2 separate regions of the Homo sapiens genome follow, and region 2 is linked to region 1. A link means that fine-mapping ties the variant in region 1 to the expression of a gene that starts in the linked region. Tissue or cell type: tibial artery. Region 1 holds a variant in brackets; the other region holds the start of a gene. All regions are shown on one strand. Distances are between the middles of the regions.

What was found. PIP is the estimated chance that this variant, and not a neighbour inherited with it, causes the effect.
Region 2: OSR1 starts here. The variant in region 1 is fine-mapped to the expression of OSR1 in tibial artery (GTEx, PIP above 0.99).

The regions. Positions count from the first base shown.
Region 1 is chr2:19,741,361-19,744,044 of GRCh38, reverse strand. No RefSeq gene overlaps it. Among named protein-coding and RNA genes, the nearest start is that of LINC00954, 130 kb to the left of the region's middle. The variant C/T (reference allele first, on the strand shown) is at 1,333.
Region 2 is chr2:19,357,414-19,360,097 of GRCh38, reverse strand. It overlaps OSR1 (odd-skipped related transcription factor 1), which reads left to right and starts at 1,475. Exons shown (of 3, transcript NM_145260.3): 1 at 1,475-1,757. RefSeq lists an enhancer at 1,603-2,131.

The DNA of each region.
Region 1 (2,684 bases):
CACCCAAGAGTATTCTAAGGTCCCTGCTGGTCTATCTGACAATATGCAGATAGGCCTTGGTTGCCTTGGCTGGCTGTGACCTTGCTGACATCTATAGACAGAGAGGTGGGAATGAAAGACACATTACTCCTGGATGTTGGTGGAGAAGGTGGTGGTTGCAGTTGCTACGCAAGAGTCACCAGGCTGCAGACTCTGTCCACTTCTGAGAGTGCAATGTCCCCTGTGATTGGCTGGGATTTCTGAGCTTTTCAGCTTGCATATGGTGAGAATGTTGGCACACCGCAGCCCTGAGGGCCTGGGCTTTGGACTCCGGCAGTCCCACATGTGTGTGCTACCTCTGCCGCTCTCTGGTTGTATGAAGTCAAGCAATGTCTGTAACCTCACTGAGTCACAGCGCTCTGCTCTGTAGAATGGAGATGGGATCCTCTCTACCTCCTGCAGTGTCTGTGAATGCCATAACACAAGCCAGAGTGCTGAGCACCGTGCCCACCCTAGAAGAGGGCTCGGTGTATAGTAGCAGCTCTTAATGCTCCCAGGATGCCTAATAAATTCTTTCAGAAAAGTATGTGCCCGTGTGTGTGGTTTTTATTTGGCCAACCCAAGAGCTCTACTACTTCCCTTTTCTAAAGGCTAAAGGCAGGAGTGTGTAGAATCTCTTTTTCATGGTTAGGAATTATAACAACTCCCATTTACTGAATGCTCTCTATATGCTAGATATTCTCCTAAAGGCTGTATAGACATTTTTCTAATCTTTGCTCAAACTTCAAGAGAGCTATCAACTTTCTCATTCTACAGATGAGGAAGTTGGCTCAGAGAAATAGTTATTTTTCCAAATTCACACAGCGTGTGTGAAGCCAGAATTCTAACCCATGCTCCTCTCTTTATAAAATACAAATATCCTAACAGGCAGTGAGACACGCTCCACATTGGCCAAGGCAAGGCCTATGGTGTCTCAGAGCTTGTTTCCTCCTTATGGGGCCCCACCTCACTCTTGTGAAGTGGGTAGGGTGGGGGTTGTTATTCTCTTTTGACAAATGAGTAATCAAAGCTCAGAAATAAGAGGTTCCTTCTTGTAGGATTTAACATTTTGAAAGTCATGGGGCACTTCCTGGGTCACTGAAAATCAGATTCTGTTCAGGAAAATTAATGGTGGCTGGAGGTCAACCCCCATACTGGCTGTGGGTACCCTGGAGTTCCTTCCCATCCACCTCTTTGTGCCCTTTCTTTTCATAGCACACTCAGTGGGAGAAATGTTTCTTGGACCTTGCCTTTTGGATTTTTGCATTTTTCCCTTATTCACACCAGACCCGGCATCTCTAGAACTTGGTTTTT[C/T]TTGGAAAGGCTGCCTGTGAGAATGGGCTTTTGTTTGGATTTCTCCTCTCCCTGGAGGGGTAGGTGGGGAGCTGGGGGCCAGCAGGTCAAGGGCCCTCCCTTCCCTCTTCCCGTGGCCTCTCTAGCACTGCAGGCAAGGCTCAAACCCCAAGGAGAAGAGCTTGTACCTTCCCTGGGAAGAAAGGCAGGGGTCTTGCTTCAGGACTCTGGGCATGATGCTAGAGTTTGGTTGCTTCTGACCTTGAAGACTAATTCTAGAAGCTTCTTTGTTCAGGATACTTTGGGCAGTTAGTAGTTCTGTGTGTGTGTGTGTTGGGGGGGGGGCGGGGAGGGGGTTCCTTTTGACCCAAATGTTTATGCATTGCCATACATCAGAGACCCAGAGTAGCAAGGGAGAAGCCTCCACTGCTTCTGATATGTGTGTGTGTGTGTGTGTGTGTGTGTGTGTGTGTGTGTGTGCACAAAGCCTCAGTCACTAGGATGCTGAAATATCACAGGGGTGCTTTCCCATTCATTCTTCTTGAGATAGGGGATGCATCTTATTCAGGGCCACATCCCAGCCCTTAGCCCAAGGTTTGGTACAGAGAAGGCATTTATAAATAATACTTGAGTGGATTATTTTATTTTTAATTATTCCTTTACATTTAATTGAAGTATAATTACATACTATAAAATGCACAGAACTTAATGCACATTCAATGAGCTTTACCAACTGTATATCCCAATGTAACCAATAGTCCAATTAAGATAGAAAGCATTTTCATTACTTGAGAAAATTCCCCATGTCATTTTCCTCTAATTTCTCTTTCTCTACAGAAAAAAAAAACTCCACTATTTTGAATACCATCCTCATAGATTCATTTTGCCTGGTCTTGAATTTGTAAAAAAAAAGTTGGATCAAACAATATGAACTCTTTTTTCTCCTTGGTTCCTTTTGCTGAGCATAATATTTTTGGGATTTATCATGTTGTTTTTGTGTATCTGTCATCATTCCTTTTTATTGTTACCTGCTATATCATTATATGGGTCTTACCCTTGCTTTCTTTATCCATTTTCCCTTTGAAGAACTTTGGGGGTATTTCAAATTTGGAGCTTTTATGAATAATGATGCTGGGAGGATTAATATATAAGTCTTTTGTGGACACATGTTTTTATTTCTTTTGGGTAATTACGTAGGAGTGAAATTTCTGGATCGTGAAGTAAGTGTATGTTTTACTTTATAAGAAGTTGCCATACAACTTTCCAAAGTAGTTGTACCATCTTATACTTCTACCAGCCAAGTATGGAAGTTCCTTTCCAACATTTGATATTGATAGTCCTCTCAATGTGAACCATTATAGTGGGTGTGTAGT
Region 2 (2,684 bases), 380 kb after region 1:
GCACTGGGTAAAAGCTGTTCGTTGGAGCAAAGATTGCACCCCCTCTTACTCCTCCTCAAACAAGACGAAGTTACCCAGGGGTTAGAGGCTAGATTCTGTTCTAAAGGCCTGGGGATATAAGGAAATCCTCTTTCAACTATGCCTTTGAGGGAGGGGAGTCTTCATTACCATCTCCCTAGGTCAGGTATTACAACCTTCTTCACCTCCCAAGAAAATCAGATTAGCTTTGCAAACCAAAGCTGGAGATAGCAGAAGCTCCTCGGGAGAGAAGCAGTACAGTACTTAGGGACCCACGGAATCTAGGATCCAGCTCCAAGAGTCACTCAGCAGCAACTCTGGGGCAAAGGCAGAGAGTGCAGTTGTGTGATCTGGACCCACACAAGTCCCAGGAAACCAGTGACTCCTCCTTGCCAAACCCAAGGCCTGGAAGGGTATTCCAGAAAGGCATTAGGGAGGGATTGGGCTGGGGTCAGCCGGAGGTCAGCTTTCAGAGATGGGTAGTCAAGGGGGTGATGGTACCCTCCATAATGCCTAGGCAATGAAGATAGAATTTTTAATGTCCAGAACTCTGATTCCTTTCCGATTAAAAACTCCACCTGAACCAGCTCCTTGACTCAGAGGCCCTGGAACTGACAACTTTGCAGCTCGTCTAGCTTGCCAGTGCGGCTCTCTAAACTCTGATCCATCCTAAAACAAATATGTAAGTAGAGAGTGCCACTGTGCATTGGGGTGAAATCTCAGAGAGTTCTGGGCCCCAGGAAAATAACTTTCCTGACCTCCTTTCCCTACTCTTTGTTCTTTCTACTGGACTCCAGAACTTAGGGTCTGGGGTCAACCATAAGCACTCAGATGTTACAGCTCGCTTGCTTCGGTGACCCTGGCCCTCCCGCACCAGGAATTAACCAGCGCTGCCTGGGTTAACACCCTGGCCCCGAGCACGCTTGGATAGCCAGGAGCTGCTCCACACTCGGGGTCTGCCGCCTCTGGAAAGAGATTCTGGGAGGAGATGCGACTCTGTCAGGCGCCAAAGTGCGTTGAAACCCAAGCCGCGGTGTGGGGATCCCGGTGCACAGAGCTACTGCCCCTCCCTCCCTCCTCCCAAAGAGCACGGGCTGTGTCCTAGGAGCCCAAGTATAGGACCTCGAAACGTGCGGTGCCAGCCCGCTCTCATCTGCTAGGGACCGTTTCCTCCAGTGCGCCAGGCGTGCCGCTCTGGACCTAAAAAGGCAGCAGGGGTCGCGCGGGACTGAAGAGGAGGGGACGCAGGTTGGGAGAGGCCGGGTCCAAGCGAGAGCAGCTGCCAAAGTCTGCTGCCCGGGTCAGCAAAAACTTTGTCTTTCATTGCGCAGGCGCAGGGCAGGGTTGGGGGGCAGGGGAGGGAGGGGAGGAATCCTGAGGCAAGGGGCGGGGGTGGGGGTGGTGGAGGAGGGAGGGTGGTGGATTAAAATAAGTAGGCGGCTCGGTGCTAAGGGATGAGTGAGTCGGAGCTCGGCCTCTCCCCGGCACGTTCTCAGCTGCTCCTGGTTCAGACCCAGCGAGGGAGCCGCGAGCGAGGCTCACCGTCCCCGGCGTGCAGGATCCGGGGCTGCTGAGCGCTCGCTCCCGCGTGTCCGGCGCTTGGAGTCCCCGCGGCAGGAGAGGAGTCGGGACACTAGAGCTCCAGGGGCGCCTGTGGGCTCCAGGGCCTCCGGCTTCCCCAGTCCCCTTCAGCTAAAGCCCCAGAGACGTGCTCAGCCCCAGGACCTCTGCGGAACAAGGTAATTGCAGTCCTGGGCGCCTGGGCTCAGCAAAGCGAATGCGGGCAGGACTCCCAGGTTCCTTGTCACTGCTCGGCGGGTGCCTCCTCTCTCTCAATGCCCCTGAAGGAAGCTCTTGCCAAACGAATGCTGTAGGACTTTTGTGAAAGTGAGAGCAGGGTGGTTGGGGGTGCTGCCTCAGGACTTCCTGCGCGGGGTCCTCGGCCTCTGACCGCTGGGGATTAAGGGGGGCGGGCCTCCGCTACTGCGGCCAGCCCGCCCGGCTCTGCGGAATCACGGGCGAGGTGCCCACGGACTTTGAAAGTCAATCTGTGGGCCCCCTTTAAGAAACCAGAGCAACTTCAGCGGGCACAAACTTTCCTGAGACGCGCTCCTAGCTCTGGCTGACGCCCAGGTTGACGAAGAAGGAAGGGAGAGGGAGTGAATGGCCACAGCCGCAGCCGACCGCGCCAGGGACAGGTGCATGCCCCAGCTCGGTAGCGCTTTCGTTCAAGTTTGTCTTTTGAGGAGTTGCGCTCTAGTATGAGGCCGCCTAGACCCGAGAGCGCAGGGCTGCGAGTCTGAACCCCGCCTTGCACTCGCGCTCTAACTTAGGGATATTCTCCATAGGATGATTGCTCTGTGTCGTCAAGGCCTGGAGCGGAACCCTTGATTGTCCTGGTGCAGGGAGGCAATGCAGTGGGCGCAAGCACTGCTTTCCAATTCGAGACCCACACACAGCACTAGTGGAAACTCTGTGGAGCCCTAGGGTCTCCGGGCTGGGGACAGGAAAAGTTCTGTTACTCCCCTGACTGTCCGCTAATCCAGCCGTCAGGAGAGAAAGAAGGGGGAAAGGGGTGAAGGGCTGCCTGCTGAACTAATTTCTCCTCGGAAATGTCTCGGAGAAGAATGAAAAACCACGTTTAGTCCTTTTTCAGCAGCTCAGGC